7 linked regions of the Homo sapiens genome follow. The protein of the gene in region 4 interacts with the protein of the main gene of each other region in a biochemical or structural test. Each region holds a gene or a part of one and is shown on either strand. Other genes may lie near its edges. The genes, in order: AHR, TAF1, ABL1, GTF2F1, ARNT, DAPK1 and GTF2E1.

The links.
Region 1: the proteins of GTF2F1 (region 4) and AHR form a complex in vitro, tested with the Homo sapiens proteins (one study listed by BioGRID).
Region 2: of the proteins of GTF2F1 (region 4) and TAF1, one has a biochemical effect on the other in vitro, tested with the Homo sapiens proteins (5 studies listed by BioGRID, with this or other methods).
Region 3: the proteins of GTF2F1 (region 4) and ABL1 interact in far-western blotting, tested with the Homo sapiens proteins (one study listed by BioGRID).
Region 5: the proteins of GTF2F1 (region 4) and ARNT form a complex in vitro, tested with the Homo sapiens proteins (one study listed by BioGRID).
Region 6: the proteins of GTF2F1 (region 4) and DAPK1 form a complex in vitro, tested with the Homo sapiens proteins (one large-scale study listed by BioGRID and IntAct).
Region 7: the proteins of GTF2F1 (region 4) and GTF2E1 form a complex in vitro, tested with the Homo sapiens proteins (3 studies listed by BioGRID).

The regions. Positions count from the first base shown.
Region 1 is NC_000007.14:17,343,356-17,347,504, reverse strand, and holds the end of AHR (aryl hydrocarbon receptor), read right to left. Parts: 3' UTR 1,358-4,149; downstream 1-1,357. UniProt on the Homo sapiens protein: Ligand-activated transcription factor that enables cells to adapt to changing conditions by sensing compounds from the environment, diet, microbiome and cellular metabolism, and which plays important roles in development, immunity and cancer.
Region 2 is NC_000023.11:71,379,578-71,384,230, reverse strand, and holds part of TAF1 (transcription initiation factor TFIID subunit 1), read right to left. Parts: intron 2,489-4,653; coding exon 2,312-2,488; intron 1,696-2,311; coding exon 1,568-1,695; intron 1,471-1,567; coding exon 1,363-1,470; intron 1,241-1,362; coding exon 1,067-1,240; intron 270-1,066; coding exon 96-269; intron 1-95. UniProt on the Homo sapiens protein: The TFIID basal transcription factor complex plays a major role in the initiation of RNA polymerase II (Pol II)-dependent transcription.
Region 3 is NC_000009.12:130,854,953-130,859,605, reverse strand, and holds part of ABL1 (tyrosine-protein kinase ABL1), read right to left. Parts: coding exon 4,510-4,653; intron 1-4,509. UniProt on the Homo sapiens protein: Non-receptor tyrosine-protein kinase that plays a role in many key processes linked to cell growth and survival such as cytoskeleton remodeling in response to extracellular stimuli, cell motility and adhesion, receptor endocytosis, autophagy, DNA damage response and apoptosis.
Region 4 is NC_000019.10:6,382,363-6,387,015, reverse strand, and holds part of GTF2F1 (general transcription factor IIF subunit 1), read left to right. Parts: intron 1-3,520; coding exon 3,521-3,705; intron 3,706-4,653. UniProt on the Homo sapiens protein: TFIIF is a general transcription initiation factor that binds to RNA polymerase II and helps to recruit it to the initiation complex in collaboration with TFIIB. It promotes transcription elongation.
Region 5 is NC_000001.11:150,813,749-150,818,401, reverse strand, and holds part of ARNT (aryl hydrocarbon receptor nuclear translocator), read left to right. Parts: intron 1-371; coding exon 372-482; intron 483-968; coding exon 969-1,041; intron 1,042-1,199; coding exon 1,200-1,320; intron 1,321-1,511; coding exon 1,512-1,614; intron 1,615-1,995; coding exon 1,996-2,143; intron 2,144-4,162; coding exon 4,163-4,325; intron 4,326-4,653. UniProt on the Homo sapiens protein: Required for activity of the AHR. Upon ligand binding, AHR translocates into the nucleus, where it heterodimerizes with ARNT and induces transcription by binding to xenobiotic response elements (XRE).
Region 6 is NC_000009.12:87,706,501-87,710,287, reverse strand, and holds the end of DAPK1 (death-associated protein kinase 1), read right to left. Parts: coding exon 2,924-3,787; 3' UTR 1,654-2,923; downstream 1-1,653. UniProt on the Homo sapiens protein: Calcium/calmodulin-dependent serine/threonine kinase involved in multiple cellular signaling pathways that trigger cell survival, apoptosis, and autophagy.
Region 7 is NC_000003.12:120,780,405-120,784,383, reverse strand, and holds the end of GTF2E1 (general transcription factor IIE subunit 1), read right to left. Parts: intron 3,342-3,979; coding exon 2,914-3,341; 3' UTR 1,315-2,913; downstream 1-1,314.

The sequences.
Region 1 (4,149 bases), on a different chromosome or scaffold from region 4:
CAAAGGAAAGAAAAGGGATAATAGGAGCTTACAGGACAACTAATGTCATGGAAGGGAAGAAAAAAGTTCATTGAAAGTGTAATCAGTTTGGTTGCAGGGCCATAGAAAATGAGCCTATGGTAAGAAGTTTAGTGAACCGCAACACTGCAATATAATGGAAGGATGGAAAACAAAACCAGATCTCAGGAGATCAAAACTGTTGTTACAAAGGAAGAAGGTAAAGAAGTAATTTAATAGAGAAGAAAGTGCAGGTTCAAGTAATTTTTTTCCAGGATGGAGGAGGACCTATTCACAGGAAATCCTACAGAGAAGGAGAGCCTCTCAGAAAGCAGGTGTCGAAGCTGTGTGCATGAGAACGAGAGAGGACGGGGGCTAACCCTGGAGTTCAGGAAACTCTCCTCCTCACATACTGGAGGTAAGTCCAAGGATAGAGGAATTGCTGAGGTGAAGGTACAAACTTAGGATGATATCCTTGATTTTATTAGTAAAAACGGAAGCAAGGTCATCTGCAGACAGTGAAAGAAATGAGAGATGTCATCCAGCCCTGTCAGTGGCCAACATCCCTGGGTCGGTGTTTGGTAGAGCTGGTGAAATTGGACAAGCTAGAGTCATTCATGGTGACAGAAATCACCTAAGCGCAAGCAGAGATGCACTCAGGTTATCAGGATTTTTACTTGATTTTTTTCAGATCAAATAGTTAAAACTAAATATTTTATGTAATTCTTAAAGACTCAGGATTAGTCTAAAATGTTCAGAATTAAGTATGATGCTAACTTATGATATGCTAGTTGAGAAAAATGCCTAATTGTAAAGAACAAATATAAAACTAATAGAAAAATAACTGTCACAAGAATGAAAACATTTTCTCAGGAATTCTTCTTCAATCAATTCTAATTGCAGGGTTTTCCATGAATGTTCAACAGTTATGAATTTAAGGCCAAAGGCTTCTGTATCATTTATACTTATTAAACAGAAATACTAAGTTTGGGCAATGGTTTTTCTAAACTAAGCACAAAATACAGCTAACAAGGGTTATTTCGAATTTCTTCAGAAATATTCTTAAAATATTAAAATAGGATTTTGGATTTTAATCTAAGACACACTACTACACTGATAACACAGGGCTTTAAAAAAGTTCATTTCAGAAGCATTTTAATTTATGAAGCTACTGAGAGTGTTTTTTATATCCAGATAAAGGTCAGACATTGGGGGGCAAAATTGTATAAGAAGTTTATGAATTACTGACTTAACATATCCCTAAGTATTGTAGATTGCCCTCATCTAACATAGTTATAATACTACAGAATAAATAATTTCCTTTACGTGGACCAGAAAGAATTTACATTAAAACATATTATTCATATTTGTTATTTTATTATATATTATTGTATACAACTTTGATAATGAGGATATTATAAATCATACTTTAAGCAAAAATCTATGCATGATATATGTAAGCAGTAACATTTTGAAGAAAAAAGCCATGAAAGCATTTACCTAAAATTTAGTAACATCGAAAAACACTAGTTTGTGCATAGTAATGTTGAAAGCTTCATAATACACTAGAATACTGGTAAGTCTTCAGGTATTGTAAGAAAAACCTGGTACAGGAAAAGACTAAATTAGACACATCCATATCCTTAGATGTGCACATCATCTAGAAATAAATCCCACAATGTAGCAGTGCACTAAGTATCCTTTGTTTGGCACTTAACAATACAGACAAACGTGTATTTGGTTTAACGTGATTTTATTATTCTTAGATACATTTTAGTTATTTTATATAGATAAAAATATACAATATTGCTTTTCAAACTTTTAATTTTATAACTGTATAACTGATTGTCATCATATTCATGATTAAAAAGCCTATTTTCCACTAAACAATTTATCCAGTAACATGTGGAAGAGAGTAACAAAAATGGTTTATGTAAGACTTATAATAAAAGGTTTAAATGTAAAAATAGAGTATTAATCTAGACCTCTGGTCTAAATCCTTAGATACCTCATGCTGGAAACAAATTATGAAATGTTTCAGACAAATTTTTTCCAACACTTAAATTGATTCTACAGGTTTAAAGTTTTGACTGAAAATACACAGAACTCAGAGATATTTTGTCCGAAGCCATTTTTATATACATTAACTTACTAAAAAAAGTAAAAGAAATAAAAATTGTATTTTTTTTTTTTTTGGAGACGGAGTCTCGGTCTATTGCCAGGCTGGAGTGCAGTGGGGCGATCTTGGCTCTGCAACCTCCGATTCCCAGGTTCAGGCTATTCTCCTGCCTCAGCCTCCTGAGTAGCTAGGACTACAGGCTCACGCCACCATGCCCAGCTAATTTCTGTATTTTTAGTAGAGACAGGGTTTCACCATGTTGGTCAGGATGGTCTCCATCTCTTGACCTCGTGATCCACCCTCCTCGCCCTCCCCAAGTGCTGGGATTACAGGCGTGAGCCACTGCACCCGGCCAAAAATTGTATTTTAATACATCTCAGTTTGGGATTCCATCAGATTTTCAAATAATACATGCAAAATGTGTCTAAGCTCTTCAGCTCTCATATCTAAAGAAAAGAAGAGCTGAATGCAGTGGCTCACGCCTGTAATCCCAGCACTTTGGGAGGCCAAGGTGGGAGGCTCACCTGAGGTCAGGAGTTTGAGACCAGTCTGGCCAACATGGTGAAACCCGTTTCTACTAAAAATACAAAAATTAGCTGGGCATGGTGGCACATGCCTGTAATCCCAGCAACTCGGGAGGCTGAGGCAAGAGAATCACTTGAACCCAGGAGGTAGAGGTTGCAGTGAGCCAAGATTGTGCCACTGCACTCCAGTTTGGGCGGCAGAGTAAGACTCTCTCTCAAAAAAAAAAAAAAAAAAGAATAAAAGATGGTGTCATTTTTTCTTTTAAACCATGTTAGGACAGTAAAGTTGGTAGGGTGATTAATTTGCCTATTGGTAATGAAGATCAGTATATCATTAAAAAAACCTAAAGTTTGAAGGTAAACGAACTATGTGGTTGTCTTTTTATTAATACCAACTTTAAGCAGTTGGATTCATTACTTGATTTCTTAGAAAGACACATTGATAAAGTATGTAAAGCCCCAACAAATTAAGTGCATATATAAGGTATGGACTTTTTAAAATGAAAAACTGCAAATATCTTACAAATAATTTTGTTCATTATATCTATACAATGCACCATTCAATTCACTCATTACAATACTTTGCACCAAACCTTGCTATCTGCAATCTTAACACTCCTCAAATATGAGAAAAACACATAGTTTCCACTGTTCTAAGAAGCGAAATTTATAAAGTCAACACAATATATTATCAAGGATTATAGGTCTAAAACAGTTTTTAAAGACAATTTATACACATTGAAATGGGTGCTTTGCTTAATTAAAAAGCTAGAAATAAAGCTTCTTGCAATTTAATAAACAAGGTTGCAGTTAACAGCAGATTTTTCACATTGCAACATTCAACTATCATCATGGAGATATCAATAAAGGTAAAGAGTGGTATATTTATTTCTTCTGAAAACACTGTTGAGGAATTTAAGTGCTATTGTCTTAATATTTTTATAATAATTAAGAAATAATTTGGAAAGACATTTTACTTTTAAATTTTTTCAACATAAGGCACATAGCAACATTTATAGTCTAGAAACAACTAAATTATGTAATAAATAATTATTTTTTCGATCATTATTTGCCCTTTACCTGAAGAAAGTAGGTAAGCAGTGGAGTTAAAATATGCCTGAATTAATGAAAATGGTTGGATTTAGGAAACACAAATAATATTTGTGTGCAGAAAGATATTAATTTAAAAAAGAAAAAGAATACTTTATATAAAATATACATCCTAGAGTGTTATAGGTAGAAAAAAATGTGAGGCACTTAGATGAAACAGTGAAGGAGGAAAGCACTGAGATTATCTTTTTATAAAAAGCACCAAACCATTTATTTTAACATCTGAGATAAAAGCAGAGGTTAACATGATAGGAAAAACTAGTTTAGTTCTCTAACTTTGTATTTGGGGAACTAATAAGAATCCAGTAGCTCAAAACTCAAAGTATTTTATTTTTACTGTGACAGAAATAATTCAAATAGAGAATATTTTCTAATTTAAAAGAATCTTAGTTTCCCTGA
Region 2 (4,653 bases), on a different chromosome or scaffold from region 4:
CAGCTATGTTAATAACAAAAAGTTTGTACATAAAAGTTTATGGAAGCATAAGCAGAATTATGTATGGGAAAAAAATTTTCTGAGCAGAGACTCACCCGTTTATAATAGTTCTTTATCTTGGTTGCCATGCCAACCTGCATCATTAAGGGTCCATTTTCCTCACTATATTCTGCAAGAATAAGATCACCATCTTTGCCTGTGAGGTCCTGAGGTGTGCGCATAAAAAACATCTCTCCACCACCTGAAGCTTGCCTCTCTTGTTCTCTCATCTGTCCAGAACAAAGAAAATACCATCTAGCTCCTGACAGGACACTACTACACACAATGACGTTGTTCAATCTGAGACAAACACACCAAAAACATTTTACCTATTTTCCAATTTCATAATCAAAATTTTCAAACATACTGTAAAGTTCAAAGAATAGTACAGTCGGCCCTCCATATCCATGTATGGGTTCTGCATCCGTGATTTCAACCAACCATAGATAGAAAATATTCAGAAAATACAAGTGCATCTGTGCTGAACAGGTACAGACTTTTCTTGTCATTATTCCCTAACCAATAACAGTGTTAACAACTATTCACATAGCATTTACATTGGAGTAGGTATTATAAGTAATCTAGAGGTGATTTAAACTATAGGAGAGGATGTGCATAGGTTATGTGCAAATATTATGCTATTTTATCAGAAACTGGAACATCTAAAGATTTTGGTATCCAGAGAAGGTCCTAGAACCAATCTCCCAGAGATAACGAAGGACGACTGTACTATGAACACTTATTATCCCACGTCGCTGTTTATATTTCGCCATTTTTTTAAACTTTTATCTTTCTATAGACTTTGCTGGACAGTTTTTGAAAGATGCAGTCATTCTGACACCTCACCTTTAAATATTTTCACATGCATCACCTAACAATAAAGACATTCTCCTAAATAACCAAAATAACATTCTATCACATCTGAGAAAATAACCAATTCCCTAATACAATCTAATACCTGGTACATTCCCTTAATTTATACCCCAATATCCTTTATAGCTGTTTTCTAACCAGAATTCAATTATACCTTGGCCTTTTTTTTGATGTGCTTTAGCAAAGGTTGGACTGAGTGGGGACCTGGCTGAGAAAGTGCACCAAATGAGTACTTTTTCAGAGGTGGGCGATGGAACTGCCGGAGTTTGATGGGCCCCATGTGGGTGGGAAAGAAGGGCTGCCGTAATTCCACAGCAGGAATTGAATGCTAAAACAGGAAATAGAAGGGTTAAAATTAGCTAATTCCATCCTAAGCAAGATTTTCCCATATCCTCCGTCAGAACAAAGCCATGGGGTTCTCCTCTATCACAGAAAAGACACTATTTGTACCTGGATAATATTCCCTCCAAAGGTGCCTCGAAGACCCTGTTGCTTGGGATAATAATACTCATCATTGGAGAGATTCCATGGATCTTTCACTTCTGGCTGAGACATGTTCTAATGATAGATAATCAAACAAATCTCGGTCAGACTATCCTTCTCTATTACCTTTCTTTGTTCTTCTAAACACCAAGCCCCTTTTTTCTTCACACACCTGCTGTGGTTCCTCCTTGATGACTCCTGTTTTCCCTAAGAGAATTCGACTCTTCTTCAGAGATGATTCCTTCTTACTCTCCTTGGAGGGGGAGTTAGAGGTGGCCTCTTCCTTCTCATCAGGAATTTCTGAGAATAAAACAAAAATCACTTGAGTTGCTCTCCCTGAAGATTCACCTTTCCTACAGACAAGTATCCAGTTTTCTTCTTTAAGGTGACGGATGTTCCAGTGAAGGTCTTAACTAGACCTTTCATCCCACCCCCCCCCAGGTAACTTCTAGTCCACGATTTACTAACTGAACTACACCTGTATCTTTTCATCCCATCCCAAATCACTTCTAGTACATGATTCACTAAGTGAACTACACGCTTGACATCTCAAAGGTACTACTTTCCGACAGTCCTACATGAGTTTTCCCTAGGGAATACACAAATAATAAAAACTAACTGCCACAATTTTGCTCTCTCAAACTGCTACCTAGAAGTTTCGAGTCCATGATTCACTAACGGAACAAACTATGCTCTTGACATCTCAAAGTTGCAACTTTCCAACATTCCTACGTGAGTGTTCCCTAAGCATATACACAAATAATATAAACTAACAGCCAAAACTTCGCTCTCTCAAGCCGCTACCTACAGGTTTCTAGTCCTAATCATCTCCAACCCTTCTGATTTCCTCCTGCCCGTTGACATTAACAGCAAGTTTTCAAAGGAGAAGAAACACTGGCCTCTGCCAGTAATATACCCAAAATGAGGTTCTCATCATTGGGATCAAGTGTCAAAACAGGAGGTTCCAACAGCCGGGGCATGGCCTGAGCATCCCAAATGATATTGTCCTCCCAGCGTCCATATACCAGATCCTCATTGTCAATGGGAAAAATGGAGTACCAAGGTTTGTCATCATCAAGAGTGGCTGCAAAACCTAGTCAAAGTGCAAGGAGGAAATAGTAACAGAGAAAACATTTATGCCCCTTTCAATCAAGATTCTGGCAAAGATAAAAAGAGTTACTCATGTTAGTAGAGCGAGTTAGTGGAGTTATTCATGTGTCCACTGAAAAGGAACCTACACAGTGTATTTCTCACTTTAAAATAATGTTGCAGGCTCAGCACGGTGGCTCACACCTGTAATCACAGCATTTTGGGAGGCCGAGGCAGGTGGATCACTTCAGGTCAGGAGTTCAAGACCAACCTGACCAACATTGAGAAGCCCCATCTTTACAAAAAATACAAAAATTAGCTGGGTGTGGTGGCACATGCCTGTAATCCCAGCTACTCAGGAGGCTGAGGCAGGAGAATCACCTGAGCCCAGGAGGCAGAGATTGCAGTGAGCTGAGATCGTGCCATTGCACTCCAACCTGGGCAACAAGAGTGAAATTCTGTCTCAAAAAATAAATAAATAAAAATAATGTTGCAGTCAAAAATGTCCACTGCAATACTGTTTATAATAGTTGAAATTTAAATAGCCTAAATGTTTAAGAAGGAATTGGTTAAATTATGACAATAAATGATATGGTAAAGTATGCTAACAATAAATGGTAATAAATTGTATTAACAAATGCAACATGTTATCGGTAAATTATGAAACATTCGTAATAGTAATATATAACCCATAAAGTGGGCAGAATGGAAGGGAAAAAACCTATTTCTTAGGTTTTAAAAATCAGACATTTTTGTATCCGGGTGTGGTGGCTCACGCCTGTAATCCCAGCATTTTGGGAGACCAAGGCAGGCAGATCACTTGAGGTCAGGAGTTCAAGACCAGCCTGGCCAACCTGGTGAAACCCCGTCTCTACTAAAAATACAAAAATTAGCTGGGCACAGCGGTGCACGCCTATAATCCCAGCTACTCGGGAGGCTGAAGCACAAGAATCACTTCAACCTGGGAGGCAGATGTTGCAGTGAGCCAAGATCGCGCCAACACATTCCACCCTGGGCGACAGAGACTCTTGTCTCAAAAAAGAAAAAATTTTGTTTTTCCTCCAAAATATAAAAGTAATCCAGCTTTCTATGTTTATATAGTCTGCTTTTTTTCATTTACACTAATAGGATATCATATATGTTGTTTCATATCTTCTTTATTTCCATTTAAAATGAGTTTCTCAAGCCAGACGTGGTGGCATGCCCCTGAAGTCTTGGCTACTCGGGAGGCTGAGGCAGGAGGATCACCTGAGCCCAGGAGTCCAGCCTGACCAACAATAGCAAGACTCTACCTCTACAAAAAATAATAATTTAATTAAAATAAAATGAACGAGTTTCCCATGTCATTAAACATTTTTATAAAGAACTCTAAATGACACAAAAATATTTATGTGGCTGGGTGGGGTGGCTCTTGCTTGTAATCTCAGCACTTTGGGAGACCGAGGCAGGAAGATCACTTGAGTCTAGGAGTTTGAAACCAGTCTGGGCAACAAAGTGAGGCCCTGTCTCAACAATGAAAAATAAAAAATGAAAGAGAGAAAAATATTTAGTAAGTGAAAAGCACAGTATGCAAAACTGTACATACGGAAATGAGCTCAACTACATACACACACAGAACACTGAAAATACACCAAAACTTAACAGTTGATAATCTCCAGATAGATTACCAGTGACTTTAACACTATACTGTATTTTCAAAGTTTTTTACATTAATCATGGCATACCTTAAAAAAAAAAACCTATTTAAGGAGAAAAATAGGAAACTAGAATTCTAAATACAAAGGGACTTGGGAACAAAAATATACTATAAAGTACTGTTATAGTTCAGAAAGATCTTTAACTTCAGGCCAGGCGTGGTGGCTCATGCCTGTAATCCCAGCACTTTGGGAGGCTGAGGCAGGTAGATCACCTAAGGTCGGGAGTTCGAGACCAGCCTGACCAACATGGAGAAACCCCATCGCTACTAAAAATACAAAATTAGATGGGCATGGTGGCGCATGCCTGTAATCCCAGCTACCCGGGAGGCTGAGGCAGGAGAATCGCCTGAGCCCAGGAGGGAGAGATTGCAGTGAGCTGAGATTGCGCCACTACACTCCGGCCCAGGCAACAGAGCAAGCAAGACTCCGTCTCAAAAAAAAAAAAAAAAAAAAGATCTTTATCACATGTTTT
Region 3 (4,653 bases), on a different chromosome or scaffold from region 4:
AACCTTTGGCTGCTTTGGGCCCGGGAGTCCCACCTCAGACATACTGTTTACAGGTTGCTCAGCCAGGAAGCAAGTTCCCCCGAGAGCTGCTCACACACCAGCAGGAAGGCAAGCCTCGCAGTACACAAGAACGGTCCAAAGCCCCTCCACCAGAGCAGGTTAGCCATGTGCTCGGCTTTTCACCAGGAGGCCTACGCCTGCTGAGCCACTGTCAGGGCGGGTAAACCTTAAACATCTAAGAGGCTGTGTAAATGGTCCCTTCCTGCAACTCTGCTGAAGCTTAGGGCCTTGGATCTGTCACTTCAGCAGACGATGAAAATAAATGTCAACTGGGCAAATTTCTTTCAAGAAAAGGAAAGACTCTATTAAGGACTAGAAGGAATCGAGGAACGTGACAGGGGCATCTCATAGAAGTCAATGAGGTGTGGACACATTCAGAACTAAGAACTTTAGGCAGAAGGTGGTGAAGAAAAATCAATCTTCAATTCCGCTATGTCAACAGAGGGTTACAACTTTGGGAAAGGATCAGAACAATGACAGTCAAATCCCCGGGTACCCAGAGATGTTTGAGCCTGTCAAGGCTCCTAGGAAATGGCAACGGCTCGGTTTAGTATTGGCCCCTTCAAGAGTCCAGCTCATAACTCCCAGTCCCCAGCTCTGGGCCCCGAGCTGATGGTCCTCGGCTGATGACCCACAAGGGCTGCTGAAAAGCTCAGAACACGAGGAGAGACACAAATAAGAGCCAAGAGCGGGGAGGCAGAAAGAAATCCTTTGGGGCCTTACAGAAGAATCTTCTAAATTCAGTTGTTTTCTAAAGATGAGCTAATTTAAAAATAAGAACCAAACTTATTCAACCCCAGCCTATTCCTCCTATCGGTCTTAAAATTTCCCCTTAGAAATCCAAAAAGGATTGCATCGAAGTTCTGCTATGTGAGCAGCATTTTTCAGCGGCGAGCCACACGGTCACACGCATAGCTGTGGGAGCTCCCTCTAACGATGTTCACTCATTCCAGTGATACGATCCCACCCAATACACCCCCTCGAGTGCGGCCCTCACAGGAAGGAACCTCCGCAGACGGTCTGCTGGATGACGCTGTGGGCTCAGAAGTCCCCAGGTGCCCAAACGGCTGATGGGAGAGTCTGTGCCAGACGGGGAGGGAGGAGGCAAGACGCCAAGGGAAGTGTGATGTGTTGCCCAATGGTGGACACTGCCTGGTCACATAAGCTCCCTGTGCTCTACCTGGAATGAAACAAACCCACCTGGCACATACTAGCTTTTAGACAGAGGCATCTTAGGCAGATTCTCCCTCTTTGGATGAATCTCAAATTCTGCAAATCACATATCCCATACGCAGGCCTTTCCTTGCCCATTTGAACAGTATTTTAGATCAACCCCTAGCTAATGAGCTGTCACACTAGATCATGCCTGCCTGCATCTGTTCCAAGGTTGCTGATTAAACAGCTCTAGGGAAAAGAAACCATTATCCTGTTCGGTGCAAACCTCAAGTGACTATCTCGGTGCAGCATGACTTGCCTTGGATAAATAGCACACATGGGAAGCAAGCTGTCTGCTCCAGAAAATCACCCCCCATGGGCGGTGCACCCTGGTGTTCTGATTCACTAGAAAGGTACCCTTGTGGTCTGAAGGCTCTTTCAAAGGGCCCAATGTCCTGAAGTACGTCCCTCAGAATGGAAGAACGCAGCTCCACCTCTGGGATAAGAACAATAACCCAAAAAGCAAGCTGACAGGCCCACGTCTAGTCACACAGGGATAACAGGCTCTTTTGTCCGTCACGCACACTGCAGTGTTGGTACTAAAGAATTCTGCAGTGGTGGAAAGCATCAGATATGGGCAATAGGATTTCAGCCAGAAGACTTTGGGATGTGAAGAAAAATAAGAACATTAAAAAGGAAGTATATGTATGTTCATATGGTACAAGTGAATGTGTGAAGACAGCCAAAAAAAAAAAAAGTTAAAAAGGTAAGTGGGGACTAGCCTATCAGATACCACAACATGGTATGAAGCCATAGCAATTACAAGTTTGGTACTGGCATACGGATAGACAGACCAATGGAAGAGAACAGAGAGGTCAACAGGCCTAGATACACATATACACTTGGTATATTTCTAACATGTAGGAAAAAGATGAATTTACTAAATGGCATAAAGATGACCCAAAATATGCCACATGGATATTCAACATAATGAGATGCCATTCTTTACCAGTCAGAGTGACAAAGGTGTTTTTACATGTCTAATAATAAACTGTTGGTGTGGGTTAAGGGGAAACAAGCCCTTTCATGGATTGTTTGTGGGAGAACAAATTTGTACAATTTCTATAGAGGGTGACCTGGTGATGCACATAACCTTCAGTCAGTTCTGGCAACTTATCTGCACACACTTACACCCACATAAAGAAGCACGTGCAACGCATTTTCAAACCAGGCCATGGGCCACTAGTCAGTCTATGAAATAAATTTAGTGGATTACAACCAGAATTTTTAAAAAATGAAATAGAACAGAATGAAATACAAACTATCAGAGTGCGTTACATACAGTAAGGGTAGGTAAGACTTCATGAAACTTTTGTTATATTGTGAGGGCTGGGTGGTGGTGTAAAATGAGTTTTTCTTACAGCAGAACCAGATTTTTGAAAAGGTTTGAAAGCCACCTCATATCAGCATTATTTACAATAACTAAAGATTGGAAACAACCTAAAAGTCAACCAGCAGGGGACTACTGAAATAAGTGACAGTCCATCCACGGTACACAGTCACTGGTAAGAATGAGGCAGCTCTAAACCTGTTGCCATAAAACAATCTCGAAGGTGTATTATCACACGGGAGAAGCATGATGCATTCGCGTGCATGTATCATTTGCGTGCCTTTTTGAATATAAACATCCACATAAACATCTATATACCATCCATCTGTGTCCAGGTAACTCTAGAAGGAACTAGTACCAGTGCTTGCCTCTGGGCAGGAAAAGTGAATTAGGAGACGATTACTTTTTACTGTAATTCATTTTGTTCTTTTGATTTTTTTTAACCATATGCATGCATTACATACTATTTAAAAAATATAGGCTGGGCACAGTGGCTCGTGCCTGTAATCCCAGCATTTTGGGAGGCCGAGGAGGGCAGATTGCTTGAGCTCAATAGTTTGAGACTAGCCTGGGCGACATGGCGAGACCCTGTCTCTACTGGAAATACAAAAACGGCCAGGCGTGGTGGCTCACGCCTGTAATCCCAGCACTTTGGGATGCTGAGGCAGGTGGATCACCTGAGGTCAGGAGTTTGAGACCAGCCTGACCAACATGGTGAAACCCTGTCTCTACTAAAAATACAAAATTAGCTGGGTGTGGTGGTGCATGCCTGTAATCCCAGCTACCTGGAAGGCTGAGGCAGGAGAAATGCTTGAACCCGGGAGGTGGAGGTTGCAGTAAGCCGAGAACGCACCATTGCACTCCAGCTTGGGCAATGAGAGCGAAAATGCCATCTCAAAACAAATAAACAAACAAAAAACAGCTGGGCATGGTGGTGTGCGCCTGTGGTCCCAACTACTCGGAAGGCTAAGGTGGGAGGATCACTTGAGCATGGGAAGCAGAGGTTGCAGTGAGCCAAGATCGCACCACTGTACTCCAGCCTGGGTGACAGGGCAAGACTCCATCTCAAAAACAAACAAACAAACAAACATACACCATCGGGACCACCTATCAACACTGTACCTCAACTACAGCCTGGTGCAGTAGAATAAACTGTGGGATCCAAGCCTATTCCATCAGTGACTCACTAGGTTGACATCGGGCAAGATCTCTTTATGCCTCCCTTTCTTTAATGCAAAGATGCAGGTATTATAGCAATACCTCAGTCAATGTTAACTCCTCCCTTCTCTTTATGGACTCTTAAGGATTATTTATATGAAGACCACAAAATCATATAGGCCACCTCCCTTACAACACCACACTTTGGGTTTGGTAAGCTGTGGGTTTGATCCCGGTTTTCACTGAAAACTGCATGCGTGTATGCACGTATGTCCACACACCTCTCCATGAATGTGTTCATCCGCAGGAAGAAGCCCACGTGCCAGGCGTCTGTGGGGGAGGGGATAGTAAAGTGGTCTTTCGCTCTAAGAAAGGTTATCTATTATTTGAATTTTTCTCGTTGGGGATGATTTCTATCATTATAAAATATTTTTTTTAAAGGAAGAATCTTATTGTAAAAAATGTGTCCAAAACCCAACAGATATTCCTCCTATTTTAAGTAACTTGCTAACAACAAAACTCTAGCAAGACAATAAGAGAATCATACCAGTCCCAGGAACTTGTAATATCACAGAACGGATCCTCAATAAAGGGTCTTCATAAGGCTAATGGAATGACTCCCACCTGAAAGATTCTTTAAACATCTTCTTGGTTGAGCTTTCTTGCAATAATTTATCAATCCGACAGCAGGACCTCTGGTTCCCCTGCCCTGGGCCCATCAGCGCCCCCTGCCAAGGGTCCCCTACCTTGCCATCAGAAGCAGTGTTGATCCTGTAATGGTACACCCTCCCTTCGTATCTCAGCGAGATGGACCTCTGGCCAGGACTGCTCTCACTCTCACGCACCAAGAAGCTGCCATTGATCCCGCTGCTCAGCAGATACTCAGCGGC
Region 4 (4,653 bases):
GTGGGGCGGGTGCAGTTAAGGGCTGTGGAGGGACACAGTGCATGAGGCCAGTGCAGAGTGACTGTGGGCAGGGGGACGAGGCTGGGGGCCCAGAGCACTTGGTCTTGGATGTATGGCTTTGGATGAGACCGTAGGGCCACCACCACCCTAGGGTGCTTGCAGATGGTGGGGAGGGCACTCTGGACGCATCTACAAATGGCATTTGCACAGGTCACAGATGAGCAGATGCTCAAAGAGTCGATGGCTCCCAAAGGTTAAAAAAACACCTTTTTCGGCTGGGTGTGGTGGCTCACGCCTGTAATCCCAGCACATTGGGAGGCCAAGGCAGGCGGATCACGAGGTCAGGAGATCGAGACCATCCTGGCTAACACGGTGAAACCCCGTCTCTACTAAAAATACAAAAAATTAGCCGGGCATGGTGGCGGGCGCCTGTAGTCCCAGTACTCGGGAGGCTGAGGCAGGAGAATGGCGTGAACTGGGAGGCGGAGCTTGCAGTGATCCTAGATGTTGCCAGTGCACTCCAGCCTGGGCGACAGAGCGAGACTCCGTCTCAAAACAAAACAAATAAAACACCTTTTTCCCTCTTTGGTGTTTTTTTGTTTGTTTGTTTGTTTGTGTGTTTTTTTTTGAACTGAGTTTCGCTCTTGTTGCCCAGGCTGGACTGCAGTGGCGCAATCTCAGCTCACTGCAACCTCCGACTCCTAGGTTCAAGCAATTCTCCTGCCTCAGCCTCCCAAGTAGAGAAATGGGATTACAGGCATGCACCACCACGCCTGGCTAACTTTGTATTTTTTGTAGAGACAGGGTTTCACCATGTTGGCCAGGTGGTCTCAAACTCCTAACCTCAGGTGATCTGCCCCCCTCAGCCTCCCTAAGTGTGGGGATTACATCCGTGAGCCACCACGCCCGGCCTGTTTTAGTTTTGTTGTTTTGTTTTTTTGAGACCGAATCTCGCTCTGTCACCCAGGCTGGAGTGCAGTGGCGCGATCTCAGCTCACTGCAAGCTCCGCCTCCCGGGTTCATGCCATTCTCTGGCCTCAGCCTCCTGGGTAGCTGGGACTACAGGCGCCTGCCACCATGCCCGGCTAATTTTTTTCTATTTTTTTGGTACAGATGGGGTTTCACCGTGGTCTCGATCTCCTGACCTCGTGATCTGCCTGCCTCGGCCTCCCAAAGTGCTGGGATTACAGGCGTGAGCCACCATGCCCAGCCCCTGCTTTAGTTTTTAATCATTTTCTTTGGTTTTAAAATTTCTGAAGAGTCATAGGTTGGCTCAGCTCCAAAAGCAACCCCGGTAAATGGCACGAAGTCAGAGCGTCCTCCCCACCAGGTCATGAGCCTCCGAGCCTGTGGGGCAGTTTCTGTACCCCTGCTCCCCTGGAACAACAGCCCCCAGGTCTGCCTGCCTGCTCCACTTTGGTTGAGTTCCTGGGGCTCCACTGTAAAATCAGTCGATCAATCATTGCTGGGGGGGCAGGTTCGCTTTTGCTGTATTTTCCTTAGAATCTGCTTTGTAAGTTTTAGGGAGAAGAATTTGGCATTTTATAGAATTGTGTAAAACCTGGATGTTAACCAAAGGAGAAATGCCATCTCTTTTTTTTTTTTTTTTTTTTTTTTTTTGAGACAGTCTCACTGTCACCCAGGCTGGAGTGCAGTGGTACCATCTCAGCTCACTGGCTCATTGCAACCTCGACCTCCTGGGTTTAAGCGATTCTGCCTCAGCCTTGCGAGTAGCTGGGACTACACACGTGCACCTCCCCACCTGGCTAATTTTTGTACTTTTAGTAGAGAAGGGGTTTCAGCATATTGCCCAGGCTGGTCTCCAACTCCTGGCCTCAAGTGATCTGCCCGCTTTGGCATCCCAATATGCTGGGATTACAGGTGTGAGCCATGGTGCCCGGCCAGAATGCCATCTCTTGATCAGATGTTAAATCTACTTAGCTAAGAACTGTTCAGGCTGGGCACGTGGAGAGCGGATCGCAAGGTCAAGAGTTCGAGACCAGCCTGGCCAAGAGACCAGCCTGGCCAATTTGGTGAAATGCCATCTCTACTAAAAATACAGAAATTAGCCAGGCATGGTGGCGGGCACCTGTAATCCCAGCTACTCGGGAGGCTGAGGCAGGAGAATTGCTTGAACCCGGGAGGTGGAGGTTGTGGTGAGCCGAGATCACACCATTGCACTCCAGTCTCGGTGACAGATCAAGACTCCAACTCAAAAGAAAAGAAAAGAAAAGAAAAGAACAAATGGTGATGGTGTCTCGCCATGTTGCTCAGGCTGGTCTCAAACTCCTGGGTTCAAGCGAGCCTCCAGCCTCGGCCTCCCCTCCCAAAGTGCTGGGATGACAGGCTTGAGCCACTGCACCAAACTGTCACTGTTTTTTGGTGCATGGCTCAGTGTGGTAAAGCCACTCACAGTGTTAAGCAGCAGTTTCATTATCTTTCACACCAGCCTGGGCCTTGCCCATGTTAGATGCATTCCTATTAAATGCAGTCCTTTTTTTTTTTTTGGAGACAGATTCTTACTCTGTCACCGAGGCTGGAGTGCTGTGGGGCAATCTTAGCTTACTGCAACCTCTGCCTCCTGGGTTCAATTGATTCTCCTCCCTCAGCCTCCTGAGTAGTCAGGACTACAGGCACATGCCACCACGCCCGGCTAATTTTTTAATTTTTTGTAGGGATGAGGTTTCACCATGTTGTTCAGGCTGTTCTCAAACTCCTGACCTCAGGTGATCCACTTGCCTCGGCCTCCCAAAGTGCTGGGATTACAGGCGTGAGCCACCGCGCCCAACCTGGCCTGCAGTCCTGTTTTTTAAAGCTTCCCTGAGCAATGAGACAACGTTACATTGTTCCAATGGAAACAGTATGTTTTGTCATTAAAGAAAAATACATCTATAAATTAAGATAACAAAAGATCTGGCTGGGCACGGTGGCTCACACCTGTAATCCCAGCACTTTGGGAGGCCAAGGTGGATCATGAGGTCAGGAGTTCGAGACCAGCCTGTCCAACATGGTGAAACCCTGTCTCTACTAAAAATACAAAAAAAAAAAAAAATTAGCTGGGCGTGGTGGCAGGCGCCTGGAACCCCGGCTATCTGGGAGGCTGAGTCAGGAGAATTGCTTGAAGCCAGGAGGCGGAGGTTGCAGTGAGCCGAGATCACATCACTGCACTCCAGTCTGGGCGACAGAGCGATACTCTGTCTCAGAAAATAAAAAAATAATAATAAAAAATAGCAAGAAACCAGTGTGACTGGATTGGGGCCAGACTCTGAGTCCGAGGGAGGTGCTGAGACTCCAGCAGCACATGGGGACCTGCTCTTTGAGGGACTCGGGGCAGAACGGGAAGGCAGGAAGGGCTGGCTCTATCCGTGTGGTTTCAGGGAGTCCTGTGCCACAGCCCAAGTCCCCGGGGGCCACATCACCTTGAAGGCTATGTGGGTGGTGCCCTGGGGCTCGCCCCCTGCAAGCACAGATGCAGGGTGGTGCCAGGCCCGGCATGAGCCCCCCTGTGCCTGGCCCGCAGGAGGAACAAGGTGCTGAACCACTTCAGCATCATGCAGCAGCGGCGGCTCAAGGATCAGGACCAGGACGAGGATGAGGAGGAGAAGGAGAAACGTGGCCGCAGGAAGGCGAGCGAGCTGCGCATCCACGACCTGGAGGACGACCTGGAGATGTCGTCCGATGCCAGTGATGCCAGTGGTGAGGAGGGTGAGTACGGGCGCCTGGGCATTAGGTCACAGAGGTGCCTGCTCAGGCAGTGCCAGTGAAGGCAAAGTCTACCATCGCTCACAGTGGCCCTAGAATGAGAGGCAAGTGGGGCCGGGCACAGTGGCTCACGCCTGTCATCCCAGCACTTTGAGAGGCTGAGGCAGGCAGATCACCTGAGATCAGGAGTTTGAGACCAGCCTGGCCAACACAGTGAGACCGTGTCTCTACTGAAAACACAAAAATTAGCTGGGCATGGTGGTGCATGCCTCTAGTGCCAGCTACTCGGGAGACTGAGGCAGGAGAATTGCTTGAACCCGTGAGATAGAGGTTGTGTTGAGCCGAGATCACGCCACTGGACTCCAGCCTGGGCAACAGAGAGAGACTCCGTCTCAGAGAAAAAAGAATGAGAGTCAGGCGAGGCCGCCTGGAGGAGCAGTGATGTCAGTCAGGAGGCAAGGCCAGAGCCCGGGAGAGCTGAGCCATGGCCCTTCTTTTTTTTTTTTTTTTTTTTGAGACAGGATCTCTCTCTCTCTCACATGGGCTGGAGTGTAGTGGTACAATCACAGCTTACTGCAGCCTTGACCTCCGAGGGTCAAACGATCCTCCCACCTCAGCCTCCTGAGTAGCTGGGACTACAGGCGTGCACCACCACACCCGGCTAATTTTTTTTTTTTTTTTTGGAGACAGAGTCTTGCTCTGTTGCCCAGGCTGGAGTGCAATGGCGCAATCTCGGCTCACTGCAACCTCTGCCTCCCAGGTTCAAGTGATTCTCCTGCCTCAGCCTCCCAAGTAGCTGGGACTACAGGCATGCACCACCATGCTGGCTAATTTTTGTATTTTTAGTAGAGATGGGGTTTCACCATGTTGGCCAGACTGGTCTCAAACTCCCGACCTCAGGTAATCTGCCTGTCTCGGCCTCCTAAAGTGCTGGGATTACAGGCGTGAGCC
Region 5 (4,653 bases), on a different chromosome or scaffold from region 4:
GGAATAAAATTCTCACACTCCAGATAGTCTTTGTTGATGTACAGTGTATGTACTTTCATTTTTTTACCTATGCTTTTAAAAAATACCTTATATGAATATATACACACATTCACAATAACCAGGTTTTGAATACCTAGAAGGAGTTAGAACCCAACAAGATGACCCCTGTGTCATAGAACATGGTTTCTGTTTGCTGAAACTGACACCCTAGATTAACTATAGGATAGGACTTTAATGAAGGATTTATTGATTGTTCCACCTACAGATGAATCTATAGAGCTTTACATACAGAATCTTATTCTTCTCTTTCTCTCTCTCTCCCCCCTTCCTCCCTCTCCACCCCCTCTTTACTGTCTACTCTGGTTTCCTAGGAACTCTAGCCAAGAACCACGGCCTACACTCTCCAACACAATCCAGAGGCCACAACTAGGTCCCACAGCTAATTTACCCCTGGAGATGGGCTCAGGACAGCTGGCACCCAGGTAAAAAAGGGTGAAATAATCATCTGTTGAGCAGTCACCCAGGGGGTGGTCATTTGCAATCCCATATATTTTTTGTTCGGTTGGTTAATTTTTTTTTTTTTTTTTTGAGAAGGAGTTTTGCTCTCATTGCTCAGGCTGGATGGAATACAATGGCACGATCTAGGCTCACTGTGACCTCTGTCTCCTGGGTTCAAGTGATTCACCTGCCTCAGCCTCCCAAATAGCTGGGATTACAGGTGCCTGCCACCACCCCCGGCTAATTTTTTGTATTTTTAGTAGAGACGGGGTTTTGCCATGTTGGCCAGGCTGGTGTCGAACTCCTGACCTCAGGTGATCCACCTGCTTCGGCCTCCCAAAGTGTTGGGATTACAGGCATGAGCCACCATGCCCGGCCTGTTTAATTTGTTTTAAGGTTCTTTCTCCAGATTCTTTTTTAAAAAAAATTTTTTTTTCTATTTGTCTTGTCAACTGGCCTTTGACATATAGGCAGCAGCAACAGCAAACAGAATTGGACATGGTACCAGGAAGAGATGGACTGGCCAGCTACAATCATTCCCAGGTGAGTTGTGTCCTCTTCGTTGAAGAGGGTAGGGAGTATTTACTTAGGAAGTGTTCTCCGGTACTAGTTAGAATGTACATATGTTGTATATGAATTTTAGGGTTATTGAATTGTCATGTTAAATCTTTAATGGTTATTTTTATCATTGTATTCCACAGGTGGTTCAGCCTGTGACAACCACAGGACCAGAACACAGCAAGCCCCTTGAGAAGTCAGATGGTTTATTTGCCCAGGATAGAGATCCAAGATTTTCAGAAATCTATCACAACATCAATGCGGGTATGTTTCTTTCTCATTATCCTTTTAAATTCTCATTTAGATCACTTACTGATGGGCATGCCACTGCCCAGTCAGTAATCTTCCAGTGTTTTTCCACTTAATCATAATACCACCTGAGTAAATAGGAACTTGCTGAACTAATATACTACAGCCCCTTGACTGGCCCTTCCCCAACTCCTTTTGGTCCACAGATCAGAGTAAAGGCATCTCCTCCAGCACTGTCCCTGCCACCCAACAGCTATTCTCCCAGGGCAACACATTCCCTCCTACCCCCCGGCCGGCAGAGAATTTCAGGTGAGCCCCGTATATATGTGCTGCTTTACAGGGCCCTGAGGGATTCAGCTGCTGAATCCAAATTTTATTCTTCCCTTGCTTTCTCTGGTTACTTCAGAAAAAGCAGTGAAGCTTGTAGGGCCTAGCGTGAGGCAAACAAGCTGCTTTTCTTCCTCCTATTTCTTTGCACCTGTCCTATTGCCATGTTCTAGGCTCCATCTCTGTGTGTCCTGGTCAGTGTGTGACTGTCAGTCTTTCTTGTCTTTTCCAAATTGTTATCAAATTTTCCTTAACCTGCAGGAAGTCAAGGGGATCTAGGGATAGCACTAGATTGTCCTTTGATTCCTAGCTTCTGTGATAAATCTATCCTTTTAATCTTTTACCTCATTTATTCACTCCTAGGAATAGTGGCCTAGCCCCTCCTGTAACCATTGTCCAGCCATCAGCTTCTGCAGGACAGATGTTGGCCCAGATTTCCCGCCACTCCAACCCCACCCAAGGAGCAACCCCAACTTGGACCCCTACTACCCGCTCAGGCTTTTCTGCCCAGGTAAAACTTATCATCTGTGTGTTCCCTGTGTATTATTTTTTGTTTGTTTGGGCTTTTTTCCGTATGTAAAATCAGTGTTTTCTATTTTAAATACCTTCTCCCCAACCCCTGTTCTCCGGTTTCCAATTTCCATCTTTGTTGAGAGTAGCTAATTAAAAATCACAGATAATAAAAAAAAATCTCAGTAGAGTCTGTGGTTTTCACCTTAAATCAGAATTGCTCACTTGGAACGTTTTGAGCACGTCTGATTTTCAGATTTGTTTTGGAGTAAATTCTAAGATGTTTCCTCTTTGTTTAGGACTCCATAAGGCAGGAGCAAAGGAGAAAATTAATGACTAACTTACAGTGATGTCTGTTTACAAAAAAGTTGAAAAATTCTTTTTTTTTTTTTTTTTGAGACAGAGTCTTGCTCTGTCGCCCAGGCTAGAGTGCAGTGGTGCGATCTTGGCTCACTGCAAGCTCTGCCTCCCGGGTTCACGCCATTCTCCTGCCTCAGCCTTCCAAGTAGCTGGGACTTGTACAGGCGCCCGCCACTGCGCCTAATTTTTTTTTTTTGTATTTTTAGTAGAGATGGGGTTTCACCATGTTAGCCAGGATGGTCTCAACCTCCTGACCTTGTGATCCGCCCACCTCAGCCTCCCAAAGTGCTGGGATTACAGGCGTGAGCCACCGCGCCTGGCTGAAAAATTCTTTTTTTTTTTTTTTCTTGAGACAGACTGTCACTTTGTTGCCCAGGCTCTGGAGTGCAGTGGCGCGATCTCGGCTCACTGCAAGCTCCGCTTCCTGGGTTCATGCCATTCTCCTGCCTCAGCCTCCCGAGTAGCTGGGACTACAGGGTGCTCGCCACCACGCCTGGCTAATTTTTTGTATTTTTAGTAGAGACGGCATTTCACCGTGTTAGCCAAGATGGTCTTGATCTCTTGACCTCGTGATCCGCCCTCCTCGGCCTCCCAAAGTGCTGGGATTACAGGCATGAGCCACCGCATCCAGCCGAAAAATTCTTTTATAATATTCATATATATAATATAACGCACAATAAATACACTGTCTAAAGAAAGATTCTTTAATATTACTATATATTTATGTTATACAAGTAATAGTTTTAAAAAGTCAAAACCAAAAGCAGGTTCCAGAATGTTATATGCAATACGATCTCAATTGTGTACAAAATGCATGAGAAAATAGAAACTGGAAGAAATTATCCAAACATGTTAACCATGGAATTATGAATGATTCTTATTTTCTTTATATTTTCCTTCACTTTCTGAATATTCTATAATGCATATACAGAACTCTCATGAGAAAATAGTTTTTATAAAAAATACATCATTAGGAACAAATGAATGCAGAACAGACAGAATAATGGTGCAGAGTAGTTTTTCTCTGCATATGGTACTTTTTTTGTTGTTTGTTTTTTTGAGACAGAGTCTCGCTGTTGCCCAGGCTAGAGTGCAGTGGCGCGATCTTGGCTCACTGCAACCTCTGTCTCCCGGGTTCAAGTGATTCTCCTGCCTCAGCCTCCTGGGTTGCTGGGATTACAGGCACGTGCCACCATGCCCAGCTAATTTTTGTATTTTTAGTAGAGACGGGGATTTCACCATGTTGGCCCGGCTGGTCTGGAACTCCTCACCTCAGGTGGTCTGCCTGCCTTGGCCTCCCAAAGTGCTGGGATTATAGGCATGAGCCATGAGCCACCCCGCCTGGCCTGCATATAATACTTTACTGTTATGAATGCCTCTAGTTTTATATAACTTCACAGTTTATAAGATGCTTTCATTTAATTCTTACAATTTTTATTAATCCCATAGTTCATTGCTTTTTTGTAATTTTATCTCAGCTGCCTAAAAAATAGTGTCAAGAGAGATTGAGAGTTAATTGGAAGAAATATACAATAGGAAATAAGTGATGAGCTTGGTTCAGAAGGATGCAGTGATTGACAGTGTTGACTCTCATAGGCATGGTATGTGCAATGATGTTAATGCTGTATTTGTTCTATATCCCCTCTCCATCTCTCTTTAGCAGGTGGCTACCCAGGCTACTGCTAAGACTCGTACTTCCCAGTTTGGTGTGGGCAGCTTTCAGACTCCATCCTCCTTCAGCTCCATGTCCCTCCCTGGTGCCCCAACTGCATCGCCTGGTGCTGCTGCCTACCCTAGTCTCACCAATCGTGGATCTAACTTTGGTGAGTCCAGACCATAAGGAGAGTAACAGGAAAATCGCACCACTAAAGAGAAAGGATTTGGTAGTTAAAGTTGTTTGCCTGTGTTGTGGGTACACTGACCTGATTGTAGGGAAATGCAAGGTGACAATCTATTTAGAATTTAAAACCTACCAGCTGGGTGCGGTGGCTCACGCCTGTAATACCAGCACTTTGGGAGGCTGAGGCAGGCGGATCACTTGAGGTTGGGAGTTCAACCCCAGCCTGACCAACATGGAGAAACCCTGTCTCTACCGGGTGTGGTACCGCATGCCTGTAATTCCAGCTACTCGGGCGGCTGAGGCAGGAGAAT
Region 6 (3,787 bases), on a different chromosome or scaffold from region 4:
TGGACGTGGTACCCAGAGGCTGTTACACTATAGTAAAGAGGTGACGAGGAACATGGCAACTGAGTGCATTTCACAGCAACTCTAAGAGACAGGGTCCCATGATTGGCTTTTCTTTCTGACTCCTAGAATTTGCACCTTTTGATTCTCACTATGGACACAGGAGGTAAGCTATGGTCTTGTTTCCTCCCACCTGCAGGGGAGAGAGCCAGCTGCATACAGTGGGCAGTGGCCAGTTTCAGCCTGACCAGAGCTCCTGGTACAGAAGCTCCTGGTACAGACTCCAAACTGCCCCCTGAAGAGTGCCCCAGGGCATTTCCCAAGATGGGGCAGTGAGTTGAGTGATCCTTAAGCTCTTGACCTTTGGGTTGCAATGATTCCTGACTGTGGTCCCAACATTTCAGGAGCCCGGGGACCCCACAATCATATGAACAGGTGCCTGTCCTAGGACTTGCATAAAACAAAAGCACTGGCTGGGTATTGTGGCTCATGCCTGTAATCCTCTCACTTCAGGAGGCAGAGGTGGGAGGATGACTTGAGGCCAGAAGTTTGAGACCAGCCTGGGCAACATAGTGAGATCATCTCCTTAAAAAAAAAAAAAAAAAATTAGCCAGGCACGGTGGTGTGCCCTTGCAGGCCTAGCTACTCAGGAGGTTGAGTTGGAAGGACTGCTGGAGCTCTGGACTTTGAAGCAACAGTGAGCTATGATCATGCCACCGCACCACAGCCTGGGTCACAGAAGCCAAGCCCTCTCTCTCAAAAAAAGTATTAAGACTTTTGCAGTAACTCAAATGTGTCTCCCCAGCATCCTCCCTCACCTTTCTTCTACTAACAGAACCCTAGTCTTGGGGAGAACTGCTTCTCCCCCAACAGCTCATTGGGTGATGAGGCCAATCCTAGTAACTCTGTCTTTTCCAAATTTGCACAGGGATAGCTATGTGACACAAGCTAATCGAATCAGAGTCCCACTCTGGGATTTTACATATAGATGCTGCAAGAGACAAACCCCTTCTCTCTGGTTTTTAGCTTACCTGCCGCTATAGGAAGCAGTCTTTTGAAGCAGGAGAGAGTGAAGCCAACACTCAGGAAGGAGCTGAGACAAGAAAAGGAGTTTCCGCTCCTTAAGGCGACCACAGTTTCCCTTTCAGTCTCATCCTTTGTAGACACACCTATGTCTAGTTTTAATTTTATTCATCAGGACTTCTTTTCTCATTATGAAAGTTAATCATGTTTATTGTGGACAACTTGCTTGAAACATAAATGAACTATAAATGTAAGAAAGGCACGAAGGTCTTTTTGCTGTAGGTTTTCTCTTCCTCCTGGTGCCATCCCCATCATTTTTGTGTAGAAGTCGCAAAGCTTCCTCTGTTCCCTGTTGCCAAAACTAAAAGAGTCAGTTTGGTTTTTTGGTTCACCCGAGAAAAATCTAAGGGGCCTGTTTTATTTACAATGGGAAGAAATGTGAAAATTATCTGAACTCTTTTCACTTTCCCACACCATTCCTAATTTGAGTAATAATCGGCATCTCAATAACCCTGAGAGTTGAGGTGTAATGATTTTCTAGGTTTTGGACTGGGTTGTCCTGCTATGTGGGGTGACAACAGTAAAACCACAACAAGTAAAAAGAAATCCTTTTGAATTAAAGATCAAAAAAACTAATGCAACGAGCAACAGTTTATTTATAAAAAAAGAAAAAAACAAACAACTTTTTAACGACATTTTATAGATTAAGTAAAAATACCAGTATTAATATATATGTATATACATAGTGCATATATATATATACATATGATATAACATTAACATTACATGCTTCTCAGGACAGAAGAATTAGGACATGTTCCCTCCTATCAATTTAAAACTCGATCACAATTTAAAATCATGGAAGAAAACTTGCTTCCTTTATTTTCTGCTTTTAGACTTCAAGTACAGGAAGTTATGAAACCAGGATCTAAATGTGGAAACCATCTGCTATGCACCAATTATAAGGGACTGCCACAAATGATGAGTCAGGGGTCTTCTGAATTCTTACATAGGTCTCTGTAACCCTACAACTGTGTCAACCTTCTACCTGAGATGAGAGGGAATGATGAAGCATGACAGTGTGTAGGTTTCATGTGGACGTTCACATTGACATTGGAACAAAAGCAAACGGAAAAATGTCTTCCTAGAGCAACAACACTGATCATAAAATCACCCTGGAGGAGGATTCCCTTCTCCCCTTTCCTTGCCAAACAAAACAGAAAAACTGTCAGAAAACAATACAAAACAAAACTCAGGGTGAAGCACCTCTGGCGATGATCAGCATACAGCAAGGGACAGAGAGGTAGCGTTTCCTTGGTGACAGCTCCTGGCTGACTCCGATGATTTCAAACACACCCTCTTCTGCAAAAGGCACTCACATATTGTCTGTTTATAAATCATACAGTGGGATTCCATACATGGGAGTTTCTCCTACAAATATAAAAGAGATAAGCTGAGGAAATGGTATAACAAAGAAAAGCGTATAAGAAATACACATTTTGGATAAATATGCACTTTTCTTTTTTAAAGGACAATCAATATAGTAGTTAAAAAAAATGTCATTGAAAAGTTAGGAATTCCAGCAAAATTATCAGTAAGAAGCAAGGTACTGGAGGATGAGAGATGGAGTCCAAAACACTGAGAGGAGGTACACTAGCTTTTCAAGCGGCCAAAGTAAAAGATCTGTTCTGCTCTTAAACTGCAATGACCATCCACAGACAACGGAATGAGACGGGGAGGGAGGTAGCGGCAGAGAAACAGGTCAAGCCGGAGGGAGGAGTGGCATCCCCCTGGCTGTGGGTGCAGGAAGAAACACCCTCAGCATCTCCAAAGGGAAGGATGGGCTACATCACCCCCTTGCTTCTGCAGTCCAAACAGACCCTGCCCAAGCCAGAGGCTGCCCTCACCGGGATACAACAGAGCTAATGGAATTGTAAGAGGTGCCGCTGTTGCAGCTCGAGGCATAGGCCTCCTGGCCATTGCCATCCAGGTTGATTTTGAACACAGAGGATGCCTTCAGCAAAAAGTCTGCGGCATCCCGGCGACCCAGCTCCCTCAGTTTGGACATGAGGGTGCCCACTGTGCTCTCAGGGTAGGTGGTCCATTCCCGCAGCAGGGCGTGGAGGGGGCTGGGGAGGAAATCCTTGGGAGCCCCGTTACTGGTGTTGTACTTTGCCACGAGGTCAGGGAGGCCTAAGTTCATGGCGAGAAGGCACCAGTCCTTCCCCAGGGGGTCGGGCGGGTCCAGCAGGCGACTCAGTTTCCTCCGAGTGAGGAGGTTCAGGTCTGATGCATGGATGTCCATGCCGAGGCTGGCCTGTGAGTAGACGTCGTGACACCCGAAGCACATGATGCTGCTGAAGCTTTCCTTGTACCCCCCCATGGTGTTGGTCAGTGAGGTTTCCTTCAGAGTCTGTGCCCGGAAGAAGTCCCGTGGCTGGTAGATCATGACGGGCTCATGGTGCTCCCGCAGCTGCTGGGGGCTCAGGTAATGCTTCACGGTCAGGAGCCCTGGCAGCGTGGTGGCCATGACGTTCTCAATGGTGCTGCACACCGAGTCCAGCAGCAGGCAGCACTTGATCTTCTCCGTCTCCAGGCCGCGGACCTGGACCTCAATGCCCTGGCCGTGGTTGACCAGCAGCACCAGCAGCTCGGCCCCACGGTTGGCCAGCTTGCAGCCATTCACCCACAGGCGGATGTCCGCGTCGCCCTCTGTGCTTTGCTGGTGGATCCACCGGCACAGGTTCACCTGGACCTTGTGAAAGAT
Region 7 (3,979 bases), on a different chromosome or scaffold from region 4:
AACCAAGTTCCTCCATCATCACTTATGGGCTGTGTGTGGTGGTGACTCTAGTTTTCCTGGGGTCAAGAAACACAGTGACTACATGTATCTACCAACCTTGGGTGTGAGCCTGCCCTTACTAGAGCTTCAGAGGCTAATCGGCAGGGCTCCCATTTTTGGTCCTTCTGTCACTGACTGTCTCTCCTCACCAGATTATTGTGCCACTCAAGAGACAAACCTATCTGATAAAGTAATATAAATTCTATTGAGTCTTATTAGATGTCACTGAAAGGGAGGTAGTTACCTATTAAATTATATCTTCCCATTGATTTTGAGTATAAATTTAGAGACGTTTATCCGAGAAAATGATAAACTCTGGATTTTTTCATTTTACTTAACTGAGGGTCTACTCACCCAAAAATCCTAGCATCAACCTAAAAAGACCTTGCTTTTGACACTCTACTATTTCTTTCATTAAATGTGTTTGATTCTTTTTCAAAATGAAAATATCTTTTTCATAATAATATATTAAGATCACTGTAATTCTCATCCCTAATTTATATATATACATTTATATATGTATACCTACCTCACAGATTATAAAAGATTGAATGAGTTAACATATATAAAGCACTTAAAATAGTGTCTGGCACACAGTTCACTATATGTTAGCTACTTTCTTCTTCACACACACACACCCCTAGAAAAACTGAATCCTATATTTAACACATTATGGATATCTTTTCCTCTCAATACATTCTTTTTTGGGGAGGGATGGGATCTCATTACATTACCCAGGCTAGCCTTGAACTCCTGGCTCAAACAATCTTCCTGCCTTGGCCTCCTGAGTACTTAGGACTAAATACAGATTTAGTGAGTATATCTATCTTTCTATTCTATTTCAAATACTGCTGCAATGAATACCTTTATTCTTACCTCCATATTCACTTGTGACATTTTCCCATAACACGAATTCTACATATACATGAACACACTTACAAAAAATAGTTTAAAAAATTAACTACATTTTAAAAATTAACATCTGATTACCATTTTATTTAAATTAACTTCTAGAACTATAAAAGTTTAAAAAACAATGTTTAAAAGCTGAAGAGCATTGCTTCTTGGTCTTTTGGCTAAGATCAAGTGTAAAAGTTGAATACTTTACGTATACAAGGTACAAAGGCATCTTATTGCACAAAAAGTTTAGATCCCATATGCATCTATCATTTGAAATATGACTAATAAAAAAGTCTTTAACATTTTTTTAATGGGAAGAATATTCATTTTAATATGCCCCAAGATGTTACAGAACTTAAAATGAACAAACTTCAGTCAGTATAAAACAGATTTATTGTCAACATTCAGTCATTAACACAACCCAGGTAAATGAAACATCACTCCATACAAGGCTCATATATTCTTTACATGTGTACTATAAAATGATAAATACTTAAAAATTACAATGCAAGGAAAAATATTGTAAGATATACAATTGTTACAGACCCTTGTGTGAAAGTTCTTTATTTTTAAAGTTCTGCCTTAGGGAAAATACCATGCTACATATCAGAACCCAAAATAAACTGTTTCCTGAGGTTACAATGCTCAATGGTATACTGGATGCACCCTAAAATACTGTGTCTGACAAAAATTAAAAGAGAGACAGCCTTCAATGATGTTTAGAAAGAGGGAGAGTGACAGAGAGAGAGAAGAGTAATCAATTATTCTGTTGATTTCTGCTGGAATGGCCTCATTAAACAATTTATAGCACTGACAAGAGGTCTGTACCCAAAGGGAACAAAACCAGGACCAGTCTCAGCTTTACATAAAGGATTTCCAAATCAGACTAACTGACACAGTTCTAAGGCACTGTTACCAATGCTTGTCACTCTTCAACCCTTCACAGAGACTTCTTGTCTTACGTCCATGTTTTTCTAATTTCTTCCTAAGGGTTTACCAATTATACTTCTGTTTTCTATCATCCTAAATCCAAACCAAAAGACATTAAGCAATACAATAAAATCTACCAGTCTGGTCAGTTCTAAAGACACAAATTCTGGTTTAGACATTAATCATAAGACTCAAGTATATCTCTCCCCCTTCCACACACGCTCCCACCTCCCCTTACATATTGATCCATCTCAATTTTGAGGAAATGCTCAAATTCTAAGCAAAATTTCAGGATTTTTTCCCCCAATCAGTGATTTGACTGTTGGCAAGCTGCTTTGGTGGGCAGCAGTATAAGAAATTGTTTGGAATGCCTGGCTAGAACAGATAAAATGGATGTGATCAGTGAATTATTGTAACCTATTGTAGTAAACAGATGGATGGGAAGGATTTACCTTATGAACTTCCCTCACTCATTTCAGAAGGGAGAAAATTATGTCTTAATAAGGCAAGAAAAAAATCAGATAAGAAAATACAGCACTTTGGGAGGCCGAGGCGGGTGGATCATGAGGTCAGGAGATCGAGATCATCCTGGCTAACATGGTGAAACCCTGCCTCTACTAAAAATACAAAAATTAGCCAGGCATGGTGGCAGGCACCTGTAATCCCAGCTACTCGGGAGGCTGAGGCAGGAGAATCGCTTGAACCCAGGAGGCAGAGGTTGCAGTGAGCCGAGATCACGCCATTGCACTCCAGCCTGGGGTACAAGAGTGAGACTTCATCTCCAAAAAAAAAAAAAAAAGAAAAGAAAATACAGTAAAATATTAATACTGTAGTGACAGCAAGGAAGGGTAGGATTCTCAGCACCCTACCTTGCTGGGAAAGTTTCTGGCATAAAAGTCAAACTCTCTACCATCAATCTTTGCACAAGGATGGACAGTTGCTTACATCAAGAGGGGCAGAAAGCCACTTAAATACTTTTCTTCAAAGATGAGACATTCCTTTTTGAACTGAGCATTAGAGAAAGGAGAAAGAATTAGGGAAAGCTCACTCAAAGAGGTCCTCAAACATGCGTTGTCCCATTGCTATATATGCTTCCTTTTCTTCTGGTGTCATCTGGGCCACTAGCTCTGGCCGTTGGCTCACTTCACTGTAGGAGAACGGACGGCCAGCCACCATGACAATGGGGTCATCTGCTACTTCTTCAAACTCGTCATCTTCCTCTTCATCCTCTTCTCGTTTATGCACAGCCACAGCTGCCGGACGGGGTGGAGAATCATCATCTGACTCACTGGTCTCGCTTTCTGAGTCACTGCCATTGGCAGCGGTCACTGGAGCAGCTGCCCCCACTGAACCAGCCATGGCAGAGGAAGTCTTTTTCTCGTGAATGAGCAGTGCTCGCATGACCTCTTCGTTGTCATCAGGCCCAGCATGGCCTTCCTCACGCTCCTGAAATGCGTCCATATCTATGCCCCCTGGGGAGTAAAACTCAGAAAGTCAATATCCTTAAATATAAATGGCATTTCTTTATAGCATATAGACAATATTTTAACATATATTTAAATAATACGATAAAATAACAGACTTCACTGGTTCCATTTTTGAGCTGCTATCCATAAAATATTCAAAATATTTCTTACAAACTGGAGCTTAAGTAGCATAATGGTCAAGTACATTGGCTTTAAGAGTATTATAGCATAGATTTGAATCCTGGTTCTTCTACACACAAGCATCTTGGGCAAGTTATTTAATCTCTAAACTTCAATACCTTTTTCTGTAAAATGAGGTGATAAAAGCATCTACTTTCTAAGGTTCTGAATAAAAACATATAAGATAATGTCTATGAAGAATCGACTAGAGTAGCTGGCATAACAGAAAATCAAAACATGGCTCTTTATCTCACTCAAGGTAAAAGCCAAAAGCTTTGCAATGGCCTATAGGGTCCCACATCATCTGGAATCCTTCCTGATCATCTACCTCTTACTTCTTTCCCCTGCTCATTCTTGTCTAGCCACAGTAGCCTCCATGGTATTCCTTGTACATATCAGACACACTCCTACCTCAGGGCCTTTGCATTACCTGTTCCCTCTGCCTGGAATATTTTTCCTTTAGG